Homo sapiens: one gene and its partner. The protein of the gene in region 1 interacts with the protein of each later gene in a biochemical or structural test. Each region holds a gene or a part of one and is shown on either strand. Other genes may lie near its edges.

What was found. The genes of interacting proteins can lie anywhere in the genome.
Region 2: the proteins of SDC2 (region 1) and SDCBP form a complex in vitro, tested with the Homo sapiens proteins (3 studies listed by BioGRID and IntAct, with this or other methods).

The regions. Positions count from the first base shown.
Region 1 is NC_000008.11:96,601,786-96,608,813, forward strand, and holds part of SDC2 (syndecan-2 precursor), read left to right. Parts: intron 1-609; coding exon 610-743; intron 744-6,549; coding exon 6,550-6,685; intron 6,686-7,028. UniProt on the Homo sapiens protein: Cell surface proteoglycan which regulates dendritic arbor morphogenesis.
Region 2 is NC_000008.11:58,556,233-58,563,260, forward strand, and holds part of SDCBP (syntenin-1), read left to right. Parts: intron 1-4,051; exon of another isoform or gene 4,052-5,515; coding exon of another isoform or gene 5,516-5,563; intron 5,564-7,028. UniProt on the Homo sapiens protein: Multifunctional adapter protein involved in diverse array of functions including trafficking of transmembrane proteins, neuro and immunomodulation, exosome biogenesis, and tumorigenesis.

The DNA of each region.
Region 1 (7,028 bases):
GTCTCACCCTGCCACCCAGGCTGGAATGCAATGGTGTGACCTCTGCTCACTGCAACCTCCACCTCCAGGTTCAAGTGATTCTCCTGCCTCAGCCTCCCGAGTAGCTGGGATTACAGGCGTGCGCCGCCACGCCCAGCTAAATTTTTGAATTTTTAGTAGAGATGAGGTTTCACCATATAGGCCAGGCTGGTCTCGATCTCCTGACCTCGTGATCCGCTCTCCTCGGCCTCCCAAAGTGCTGAAATTACAGGCGTGAGCCCCTGCACCTGGACTGTTGTGTTCTTAAAATGGAAATGGAGCACGTTTCAGTGTAGATGGGAAAAAATCTTGTCAAGCAGGGAGAAAAGGAACATGCAAGTGAAAGAAGGGCTACTTGAATGTTCAGGATAATACTATTAAGGAAAAACTTGCTAGACTACCCACAGACACCTTTGAAATCACTTCTTCATCATGGTGAAGACCACAGGAAGCTTTGTGCTGAAGTCTTAAAGAGCCAGCATTTTGAAAGAACATGATTCTGTCAGTGTCAACGTCAGGCAATAGTGCCTGATAATGGAGACATCTGTGTCATGATTGCCATGCTCAGTTCATCTTCACTTACTTTTCCAGGAGCTGATGAGGATGTAGAGAGTCCAGAGCTGACAACATCTCGACCACTTCCAAAGATACTGTTGACTAGTGCTGCTCCAAAAGTGGAAACCACGACGCTGAATATACAGAACAAGATACCTGCTCAGACAAAGGTGCGTTCTATTTTCCATTGCATTGCATTATCAGGTTATTACAAATGCTTCACTTTACTGACTGTACACAACAGTCCCTTTTGTATTATTTTCTTCTTTTTGGAGCTACCCATCATGAACTATGTACACAACAGTTCTTTTAAAAGACCCCACTTAAAATTGTGTAAGGACAAATGGTCTTCAGGTGGTGTTATAAATGGCTCTTCCTTACTCTTTTTGATCATTTTGGCATTTACCCACTTATAATCTCTGTCATCCAGGCTCAAATTATATACAACTATTTTTCACATGGCCCTCCTTCTTAAGGAACGTCTGAAGCCCAGTTAAGAAGTAAAGCCCTGTTTCTTTGGTTTCCTGGTTTGTAGGTTACGTAATTAGAAGACTCCAGGTCACGTCTTGAGGTGGTCCTAGTCTCACTAAGTCATTTCTCAGTCTTCCTAGGCCGACCATCAGTACTATGTAATCCTTGACCTCTCTCGATGATGATGAACCTGGGTACATCTGTATATATTCATTTTGAGAGCTGACTTATTAAGAATAAGGTCTTTGGCCTTAGACCTGAGTAAAGTGACCAGCTAATGAAAACTTGGAGCTTGTGATTTTGACCTCGTTAATATTGCAGTTAGCTGACCATCCACTAATAGGTAACCCACTGAAGTTAGAACATGCATATTAAAGTCTGGCAAAGACCTAAGTTTCAAATCCTGGATCCAGTCAGGTTTCTTAGCTTCTGAACCCATTTCCTATGGGCCTTGAAGAAGATGAAATGTGAGTGCATGTAGCATGGCACCTGAGACCTAGTCACCATTCTGTAAGCATTAATTGAATTGGTGGAGCAGAAGAGACCAAGCCAATTCACCAAATGAGCATGTGTAATAACTGTAGTGGTAGACTTTGCAATCAGTGCAGGGGTAACATATGGCTTAAGAAAACTCAGAAGCACAAGCATCCCCTTTTAGAGCTCACCCATCTGTTGATTAGAAATGAGATGCTGCCAAGCTTTAGCAGCAGACAGGGTATGGATATGGAAGGCTGTTTGATGAAGGTGGCGACAGGCCTTCCTTGGAGTAAGAATCATCCCGTCTTCAGGCCAGAATGCATGTGGGCTTTTCTTACCCTTGCCCCAGAGTACCTTTGTTCTTCCTCCTCCTCCATCCTCCCAGTGCCTGTGACTGGAATGGTGAATGGCACCGCTGGATGGGTTTCTGCAGATGTGGAACAGCCAGGAAGCCAGCCCTGTCCAAATTGAAGTGCTTTCTGTAGGACCAAGAAGGGTCAATTACTATTAGTGGTAGACTTCACAAGCCAGGCGGTAGGAAGGCAGGGAGAGCCCTATGAGAACTGAGACCGACTCACCTGGCATGTGCTGGATCCATGCATAAAAGCTACTGTATCAATGTTTCAGTTGAGTGAATGAAACAAAAAAAGAAAGGGAGAAATGAAAAGTGCAGGTGCAATTGGTGGTACGATGACTGCCTCAGAGTGTGTGTGGCACAATTAGCTACTATTTACTAAAGATGCATTTGGCTCTTACCACATTTTTATTTGACCACTTCTCTTGACTAAATCTGCTGAAGTCAGAGACAATTAGGACTCACTAGCTTGAGGGAAGCAACTCTCCTGGGTGAGTTTTGGCTTGTAGTGATAGAGAGTTCTATCCTAAGCAAGACTTAATTTGACATAGAGTTCTGTCTGGTTTGTTAACAGCAATGGATTGACCACTAATTTAAGTTTTTAAAAATTGGTTTTAAGGAAGTAATTGCATCAGATCGAGATAAAAAATGTAGAACTTTGGCAGGTGAATTTAAAAATTAAGGAGCCCAAAAGATTTTAATACATTTATATTCTTACTATCATTTGTGTTCAATATAGTAATAGTAGAAATTCATCCATTTATAGGAGATTTGTTGAGTGCTATTCATTATGTGTCGAACACTGTTTGCAGCACTGATAATGATAATATTGATCATGAATAACATGAATAATAATGATTAAATTTTTCATTTTGCTGTTTATGTGGTACAGCCGAATTGAACATTGCCTCTAGGATACCATTAGTGTAGATTTTGCTTTTCAATTGGTCTCACAGTGGCATTAATGTCACTGTTACGGATATCCTATCTAGTTTGTTGTAAATTTAAGTGACTAAAATGCACAAAAGGGAATCTCGTTATTTGTTTGAGAAGAGCATCACTCATAAGCTTTTACTTCTGTTGCATTTCCATGGCATCCAAACAACCAGACATGGATGTGGCAGATCTTTACTTGGCCTCATTTAATCATCCCTGCTGTCTTTTTGCGGATTCATTTTGCACATACATTCATACAAGAGTGAAGGTATTTCAGATTAGTTCCATATTACCAAATGGTATCTTCTTAGTCAAGCCTTTGCTTCCATACGATAAAACATTTTGACTTAAAAAATGAATTTTCCACCCAGAGCCGCTTGAGGCTTGTGCACCTCCAGCTGCAGGGCGGCTCCAGTTCTGTGGAGTCCTTCAGTTCCCACACTCTCAGATCCCTGGATTGCACGCTTTGTTCAGCCTGCCGGATCAGAGGCTGAGTCAGAGGAAACTGAAAAGATCAACTCTCTTAAATGACTTTAGGGACTCAATCACATGGTGAAACCATATGATTTGTAATAATAATGGGACAAAGATGATATGGATATGGATGAATTAAACTCAGTCTCTCATATTACAGTAACTACTTAGGTCCATTTCATTTCTCACCAGAACTTGTTTACCTCTCTCCCTAGTCACAAACCTGAGTATTCACCTATTTGAGATTTCTCTTCCCTTTTCTAACTTGTAATAGTAAAGCAGTACTAATGAGCAGTGAAAAGGTCTCTAGACTAGAACCCAGATAATCCATTCTCTGACCTGTTGTCTGTCTTTCCACAAGGCAGCCAATTAATGATGGGCTTTTCATGAGAAGAATAGAAAAATCTCAGCAAAAATACTGCCAATGAGCTGCTCTCTTCTGCTTTACTTTGGTACCTGAAGGCCTGGGAAGGCCTGTCGTATTTCCTTCTCTCATAGTAATAGAAAGGACGGTGACATTTTCAGTGCATATTGTGCACCAGTGAAATGAAATTTCTCTATGGCCTCTGCTTTTTGTAAGTCATGGCAGGTTGAAGTTTAGGTAGTACAGGGTTTCTTGCAATTTGGGAATGACAGTTACTCTTTATTATACTTTATTACATACCACCTTCAGTAGAAGTGTAGCGTTCTGCTCACTGAGACAGGGACCTATTGATCTTACATACCCTAGAGTACAAATGGATCCACCTGGTCTAGCTTATGGTCCTTCCTAGCAATGAGGGTGGCCTTAAGGTGCAGAAAAGAAGTATGATGTGGTCAGGGTCCCACAGGAGCTACTTGCACAGCCCAAGAAGGTGTGAGGTCTTTTCTTCTTACACTCTTTAAGCCTCTAGACTTAACTAGCAGGCCGCCATTTTGGATGAACTCTAGCCTTCAGAAAGCAATCATTTGCTTTGCTGAGCCATGGTATGTTAGACTCTGTGGAGTCCTAATGAAGATGGTAGGAAGCTCTCAGGAACTTAGGAAGAGTAGTAGAGCTGAGAAGGATTATTGTCTGCAGTATTTTTTTTGAGACAGGGTCTCACTCTGTTACCCAGGCTAGAATGCAGTGGCACAATTATAGCTCACCGCAGCCTCCAACTCCTGGGATCAAGAGATCCTCCACAGGTACACAGCACCATGCCTGGCTAATTTTAAAAATTTTTTTGTAGAGACAAGGTCTCAGTATGTTGCCCAGGTTGGTCTCGAATGATCCTCTCACCTTGGGCTCCCTACCCAGCCACCTTTAGCCTTTAAACCTCAATGAAGTTGACAGTGTTTTCATCAGTGATGCTGGCCGACAAGAACTTCAGACTGTTAGAGAATGAACAACTCCTTTGAATGGGACTTCTCTAATCCACTGGTTCTTAAACTATGGAATTGTCTGGAGAACTTAAATAGCAGTAAAAGTCAGTGCCAGCTACATAGTGCCCTGTATAGCTCAGAAGTGAAGGAGTAAGGAGAACTGGGGCAGTGCTGTTGGGTTGGAGCAGTCAGAGGGAGATGGTGACCTGAAGTCAGACCAATTGAAATGGAACCTCTAGTAGTAGGACTGTATTTTTTTTAATGCCTTTCAGGTGATGTGGATCAGCGTAACCTTGGGTGATTCACATAAGATGGCCAGTGATGGTGCTGAGAGTTAGAAAGGCAAGAGATAATTTCTGTGTAAATAATCCTGGGGGTTTAGTGAGGTAAAAGGTCAGAGAAGGCTTCATTAAGGACAAACAGATAGTAAAAGAAGTGCAACATTTGGACTGGGGATAGAACTGCATGAACTAGAGCAGAGTTCCCCACCCGCTTCTGGGGCCACGGACCAGTAGCGGTGGCCTGTTAGGAACCAGGCTGCACAGCAGGAAGTGAGTGAGCATTACCACCTGAGCTCCGCCTCCTGTCAGATCAGTGGAGGCGTGCCATTCCCATAGGATCTAGGAGCGCAAACGCGATTGTGAACTGTGCCTGTTGTGCTCCTTATGAGAGTCTGAGGTGGAATAGTTTCATCCCCCTCCATCCCCCCCACCCTCCCATTCATGGAAAGATTGGGGACCGCTAAACTACAGCACAGATACTAAGAACCATTTTTGATAATGAAGAGGTGGTGGAAATGACCTCACAGGGTTTTCTACTGGGAGTAAGTGGTGGGTTGGGTGAGGACTGGAAGCTACCCAACACCTGCAGTTCTGAGGTCGATGCGGGATGGGAGCTGGGCTGTGATGTGCTGGCCACCTGAACGAAGCTGTGGAAATGAGAACCCAAGGGAAGAAGTTAATGTGAGAGCAAGATGGGAGGCAAATTGACAGTGCTGTGACATGGAAAACATATGATAGAAAATGTGCCGTAATAGATAACTTGGTAACACCCCAAAATACAGTGCCATTAATGGGAATAGAAAAGGAGGTTGATCTGATTCAGCAGTGAATTAATTACTACTTAGACTTGACGAGTAGAGTTAAAGGTGGTACAGCCAACAGTTAATGTCCTGCAGGCTGCTGGCTTGTTGGGAATAATGCTGACTAGAGATGCGGCTGTGAGAGGTATTCCCATAGATTTCTGCTTGAGCATTGTGCAGTGTCCGAGACCCAGTGAGTGTCGTTCATTAGACAGGTGAGGAAATCAAGGTGGAGAAAAGAAGTATGATGTGATCAGGGAGGAGCTACTTGCGCAATCCAAGTCCCTGGAAGTCCTGGTCTAGGGTTTGCTGAAGGTAATATAACTAGGGGGAAGCATTAGGAGTAAGGCTTGGGGATTGCTCCCCACAGAGTGGGGACAGGAAAAGCCCAGTCAGGCGTGAGAGAATATCTGAAAGGGAACTGTTGTCCTAGTGCCCTGTGTAGTTCAGAAGTGAAGGAGCAGGGAGAATTGGGGCAGTGCTGTTGGGTTGGAGCAGTCAGAGGGAGATGGTGACCTGCAGTTAGAAGAGTGGTGAGAAAGTAGAAATCTTAGGAAATGTCCACTAAAACAACCTCACCATGTCCTTAGGATTATTATGAACTCACTAGCTCTCCGACTTGCCTGATCATGCGATGGGTGTTGTGCAAACCATGAACTACATGGGTCCATCATGACACTCACCCATTGCTATAAACATCACACAAGTGATTATTCCAGTTATTTCCTAAACTCATTCTTTGGGGGAAAAAAAAATTTTGGAATATACTCATCTATTATTTCTTCTTTCCAACACATTTCCTTAAATCAATGTAATCTTTCCCTGTTTCCCATACCAGTCACCTGAAGAAACTGATAAAGAGAAAGTTCACCTCTCTGACTCAGAAAGGAAAATGGACCCAGCCGAAGAGGATACAAATGTGTATACTGAGAAACACTCAGACAGTCTGTTTAAACGGACAGAAGTCCTAGCAGGTGAGTAGCCTGGTGGGCCTCAGGTGGGAGGGTGCCTACATAGGCCTCTGTTAGTCTAAGTGATATTCAAAAGTGCAGCAAAGCTTGCTGTCATCTTTCTGCTGAAAGCAGTCTTGTGGGTGCTTGATTCCAGAGCGAGAAGCAAGAGGCTCAGCAAACATTGTCTTTATTGTCTGCCAGCTCCCTCAACCTACCTCTTCGCCAGCCATCGGGCAGGGGATAGGAGGTAGCCTAAAAGAGGGAAAGTTAACATCTGAATTGATCCAGAACAACTGGATGTAGAGAGATGGCAGAGTGTGGAGATCCATCAGTCTTGCTCACAGGCATTCTACATTTCAAAATA
Region 2 (7,028 bases), about 38 Mb from region 1:
GATGAAACTATATCACGAGGAGCGTTTAACCTAGATCCCTTGCATGCACAATTCACAATAGGGTTCCTGCTCCTGTGAGAATCTAATGCTGCCACTGATCTGACAGGAGCTGGAGCTCAGGTGGTAATGCTGGCTCACCTGCCACTCACCTGCTGTGGGTGGCCTGGTTCCCAATGGGCCACCGACTGGTACTGGTCCATGGCCCGGGGGTTGGGAACTCCTGTTTTAATAGCTTAGATTAAAAGAAGCAAATAAACATTATTTCACCTTAAACAGTCACATGTCATTTTTAAGGGAGGCCAGTTGTAGTTGGTGGTTTGAGAAGGGGTGAGGTTAATAACTCAGAAAATGATGAGTATTGCCATTCTAGGTGATATTATTTGGAAAACTTTGCCAGTGTTTCCTACTTCATTAATCAGAATATTGTGTCCAGAGAGCGAATAAACTAGAATTCCAAAATATCACATAAGTATTTAAGTTGAGGGCCTTCGTTCTGTACACATATTTAAAGACTTCAAGGAGGTTACTCTTATATTGCCCTGAGGGGGTTGAGGGACAAATGGGAAACTTGGTACTGAGGCAGACAATATATAAATACATATATATATAAAATGTATGTATTATATATAACATATATAATACATATATATTATAATACGTATAATACGTATTATAATATATTCTAATTATATATAATATATATTATTTATGAATAATATATAATGATTTATATATTATATATAACATAATATATATTGTATATCATACTATTATACTATATCTTATATACTATATTATAAGTATATAAGATATACTTATTATATACTATATTATATAGTATAGTATAGTATAATTTATACCATATATTATATATTATACTATTATATACAATATAGTATATATTATATACAATATTATAATATATAATTATAATGTATATTATAATATAATATAGTATTATTATATATTAATATTATATTATTTATATATTCCAGGAAAATGATATTAATTTTAATCAATATTTATATTTAAATATTTATATTTAAAATATTTATATTTAGATATTTATATTTAATTATATATAAATATAAAATATATAAATATAAATATATAAAATATATAGATATATAAAAATATATAAATATAAAAATATTTATATTTAAAATATAATAATATAATGTAATATAATATATATTATATATAATACATATAATACATATTATATAATACATATTATATATGTTATATATAATACATATGCACACACACACATATATAATATATATATAGCCTTTTGGTGTTCTGAAAAAGTCCGAAACTATCCCACCCACTGAAAGATCTCTTAATAGAAACTATTTGTGAGTTACTTCTGAGGCCTGAGATACATTGGGTGTAGGGGCCTTTCATAATGCATGAAGTGAGTCACAGAGATTGCAAATAATGTAGTGTGGGCCAAACCTGGTCAAAGGGTATGTGGGCAGTACCATTTCTTTCCAAGGAATTAGGCCAGTGGAAAAAAGCTGTAGTGGTCAGGAAGGTTTGATCAAACCCTTAAAGAGTAGTGGGAGTTTTATCTTCTTAGTGATTACTCAGCTCGAAGGAAAGCCTAGAAACAAAATTCTTTAGTTTAGTTCGTACAATAATAATGTTTGATAAGAGTTGCAAGTGAGGTAAAATGAGATTCTTCCACTGATGTAATAGTTACTTTCAGAATCCTCTTAAACCTCATTATTGGTCATTATAAAATTCCAGCCACAATTAGAAGGATTTCCCAGAGTTAGCTTTGTGGTTCTTGAAAAAGGGCTGTGTTTCTAACAGTTCCCATTAGGTCAAAGATTTAAATATAATGTACAAGTGACTTAATGGAGCCCTTCAGAAAAATAAAGCATTTATCATTTTCCTGGAAGGCTTTTTACACTGTTAGGTTCAAAAGTACGGACTTGCCCTAAGAATATTTTGATCTTTTCAATAAGTGTTTAAAGATATCTTATTTACTGTTGTTTTGATGACATTTGTCAAAATACTAACATTTGGTATCTTCTTTTTAAAAAGTTTTTTTTATTGGTGAGACAGGGTCTCAGTCTGTCCACCCAGGTTAGAATGTGGTGGTGTGACCACAGCTCACTGCAGCCTCAACCTCCTTTGCTCAAGTGGTCCTCCTACCTCAGCCTCCCAAGTAGCTAGGACTACAGGCATGTGCTGCTGTCCCTGGCTAGTTTTTTATATTTTTTGTAGAGATGGGGTTTCTCCATGTTGCCCAAGCTGGTCGCAAACTCCTGGGCTCAAGTGATCCACCTACCTTTTTCTCCCAAACTGTTGGGATTACAGGCACTGCGCCCAGCTACATTTGATATCTTTGAGGATGAGGAAAAAGTGTTTATGCTGTGTAAATAAACTAAATTGAGTCCTGCCTTCAAGTAGTGGAGATAAACATGTACTAGCTATAATCTGAGGCAGAGTTGAGAGGAGTTGGGAGGAGCAAATAATATCCAACTGAAGCCTTCAAAGTCACCCTCTTTTAAGAAGTGACACTTGACCTATGCCTCAAGGCTAACTAGGATTTTGATTGGTGGAGAAGTCCTGGAAGGACATTCCTGGAAGAGAATGCACCTTTTACAAAAATATGCAGGCATGGAAGCATGTGACCTGGGTGGCAAATAGTCAGTGGTTTGCAGCTACAACATTTTAATACGTGGAAAGAAATTTAATGAAATGGGTCAAGAAAGTAAAATTGAGGAATGCTTTGTGATTTAAAAAACAGTGAGAGTTAATTAAGATCAGTACACTTAAAGCAAACCTGAAACTTACTTTTTCAGAAGTGTAAATTACGGTAATATTTGTTATTTAAAAAAAATTTTGAAAGTCCATTTTTCTTCTAGGCTTGAGTTGCTGGTGTGTGAATTAACTCAAGAGTTGTTCAGACAACTTCAGTTAATATTTATTTGAAGAGAAACTTCTATGGAGAGAAAAGTTAGGAAACCACTTCATTTTTCATGAGAACAGTGGGATTTTGAAGTTAGCCAATGACAGAATCAAAAAAAGAAATCAAAAATAGAAATAATATTAGATGGCCAGGTAACATTCTTTTCAGTGCATTTTGGTTGTTGATATTGCAACTTGCTTTGCATTTTGTATATTATATATCATATGCATTTTGTTTATATTGATAGAATGGCTGAAAGTTTAAATAAGGCAAAAAATTGTGTTTAGGGAAAGGCTGCTAGGAAATTGATCCTTTGAACCCAAAGAAGATAATTCACTTTGTTCTCCTGGATTAATACAATTAAATCATATTTGATAGTGCTCTCTCAAGAATGTGAATTTTTTTTTTTTTCTCACAAACCCAGATTCTGTTTTTCCCTTAAGGACTGTACCAGGCCACTACTATTCACCATTGTACTGGAGATTATAGCCAGAGAAATTAGAAAAGAAACAAAAGATGTGTAATAGCAGCAAGAAGGTGCAATAGAAAGCTCATATGCTTCTTCTCCCCACAGAAATACTGATTCAATAACAATACACACACCAGACCTCTTTGTGAGAAATCCGGAAACTAGTTAAGAGGCTCCTGCATTCTAGGTGAGCAGTAAACCAGCTGCAGTGAAGATGGTAGGAAAATTCATCCTACTTGCTCACCATAGTTCATTCCCCTGGCTCAGCATGGCATGAGCAAGAGGAAACTCCAGGCTCCTGGTTTTTCCCTGGGCGGGGAAAGAGAAGACTGAAACATCTGTGTGACATTCAGATTTTTCAGAGGTCTGCCCAAGGGTCTGGTTTTTATTTTGCTTGAATATAAGTTCTGACAGGAAAGGGCACCAGGTTGCGGGGTCATTGAAAACAAAGTTGACAGTTTAGATTAGCAGGCACTCACCATGGTCCCTCCCCCTCCCTCAGCATGAAACCAGCAGGAGAAAATCCTCAACTCTTGGCTTCTCCTTGGGGAGACAAAAGAGTTGGAATGTGTGTCCAGTGTTTCACCTTTTCAGTGGGCTGAGGGACTGGCTTCTGTCTTGCTTGTCTTGGAAAGCTGACAGGGGCTGGTGTATTCCAGGTGCCCAGGAGCCACTGAGAACAGAAGACTTGTTGCTGCTCTAGAGGACCTATGGTAGGGCAGACAGAGGATGATACAGCTCAGCAGCTTGTCCCTACGTGTGGCATGAAAGGTGTTGGAGAGAGAATAGTGGAGTATGTGTCCAACATTCCAGCACTTCAGAGAGCTACCCCCAAGGGACTGGCTTCTGTTTCACCTGACTTGGAGCACAGGCAGGAGTGGACATACTCTAAAAGCCCACTGATGGGAAAGGGCACCAGGTTGGAGGCCTCTGAAAACAAGAGAGCTGGGTGGCTTGCAGCAGCTCCAGAGAACCTGAAGTACCACAGACAGATAGCACAGGGAGCAAAAGATTATGAGATCCTGAAAAAGGAAACGAACAAGTTCATCTTGAGAATTTATACACACTGGTCGAGAAGAAGCATCCTCAGGAAAGGTTCAAAAGGCATGCAGAATCTCTAGTCAGGCCGATCAGTGAGGATCTTTCTCTGTACAGAGCCAGACCACAAAGACTGGGAGGGGTGATATTTTTTCAAATGCTTGGATCCCAACATGATGTTAAAAGACACACAAAGAAATAGGGAAACATGGCACAATCAAAGAGTCAAAATATCCAGGAACCTACTTTAAGGAAACACAGATATCTTCATTATCTCAGAAGGAATTCAGACTAACCACCATAAACATGTTCAGTGACCCAAGGAAAATGCTGCATGAACAAAATGGTATCAACATAGAGATTGAAAACGTAAAAAGGAACCAAACAAACATTGTAACAGATGCAATATGCTTCTTTGACCAAATTGAAAGATTTACTAGAGGAGTTTAGCAGCAGTGTTTTTCAAGGAGAAGAATTAGTGAACTTGAAGCCAGGTCATTTGAAATTATCCAGTCAGAGAAGCAAAAAGAAAAAAAATAAAAAAAGAATGAAGACAGCCTAGAGTACTAATGGGACAGCATCAATTTTATCAATGTAGATTGTATGGAAGTTCCATATGTTGGAAAGAGAAAGGAGCAAAAAGCTTATTTGAAGAAATACTGGCCAAAACTTCCCAAACTGAAGGAAGGCAGTGGACATCCAGATTCAAGAAGCCAAATGGACTCCAGAGTAGAACAATCCGAAGACATCTACATGGAAACACACTGTAATCAAATTGTCAAAGAATTTTGAAAGCAGCAGGATAAGAACAACTTGTCATATACAAAGGAGATTCTGTGGGACTCTAAGTGGATTTCTTAGCAGAAACCTTGCAGGTCAGAAAGAAGTGGGATGATATAGTCAAACTGCTGGAAGAAAAACTGCCAGCAAAGTACTGTATGTGGCAAAACTTTTCTTTAAAAGTAAAAGAGAAATAAGATTCTCAAAATCTGAGAGAGTTCATCACCACTATATCTGACTTAAACGCCAATGGGAGTCTGTTAAATGGAAACAAAAGTATGTTCAACATGAAAGTATAAAATTAAATGATAAAGCTATGGACAAATAGAGACCTGCATATTATTGTAATGGTGGTGAGTAAATCACTTATTTCTGATATATAAGTCTAAGACAAAAGTTTAAGTGCCTGTAACTATAAAAATATTAATAGATGCACAACATAAAAGATGAAATTTGTAGCATCAGTAATGCAGTATGGGGATGGATGAGAAGAAGCAGTATTGTATGCAGTTGAAATTATCAGCTTAAAATAGGTTTATTAGAAGATGTTTTATGTAAACTCCATGGTAACCACAAAGAAAATACCTATAGAAAATACACACACACAAATAAGGAATCAAAGCATATCTATTAAAAAAAAAAACAGTGAAACAAAAAGCATGATGGCAAGAGAGGAAAGGAAGGACAAAAAAGTTTCAAGATAGAAAATCATTAACAAAATGTCATTGTAAGTCCTTCCCTATCAGTAATAACTTTAAATGTACTAAACTCTCCAATCAAAAGACATAGAGGGGATGAATGGATTAAAAAAATAAAACCAAGAGCCAGCTATACCCAGTTTATAAGAGACTCACTTCAGATTTAAGGATACTTTTTATTTTTTTACAGAAATGGATATACTGATTCTAAAACTGATACTGAATTGATAGGGATTTAGAATAGCCAAAACAATTTCGAAAAAGAACAAAGTGGGAGGATTCACATTAACTGATTTTAAAACTTAATACAAATGTACAGTACTCAAGAATGTGTGGTACTGGTATAAGGATAGACATATAGATCAGTGAAATAGAATTGAGATTGCAGAAATAAGTGCATACAGTTATGATCACTTTTCAATAACGATGCGAAGACAATTCAAAAATGTTATTTTCAAAAAATGGTGCTGAAATAACTGGGTTTCCACATGGATAATAATGAATATGGATCTATACCACACACCGTGTACAAAATTAACATAAAATAGATCAAAGATATAAATGCAGGAATTAAAGACATAACATTTTTTGAAGAAAACATAAGGGTAAGTCTTCATAACCTTGAGTTGGGCAGTAGTTTCTTAGATGTTATATCTAAAGCATAAGCAACCAAGAAGAAATATAGATTCAAATTTGTCAGAATTAAAAACCTCATATTGCAAAATGCACTGTGAGAAAAAATGAAAAGACAATCTACAGAATAAGAAAAGTATTTGTAAATCATATATGATAGTGGTCTATGATATGGTCTGAATGTTTGTGACTGTGTCCCTCCATTCATATGTTGAATCCTGTAATCATCAAGGGGATGGTATTAGAGTTACCATATGACCCAGCAGTTGCATGCTTAGCTATATTCCAAGAGAATTAAAGATGCATTTATTAAAAAAGTATATAAACTTACATATTATTTGCTAACAATGCAAATGCTCATTGGCATTTTTAACAGCATTATTTATAATAGCCAAAAGTGCAAATAACCCAAATGTCATCAGCTGATGACAGCATAAATATAATGTGGTATACATACAATGGAATATTATTCTGCTATGAAAATGAA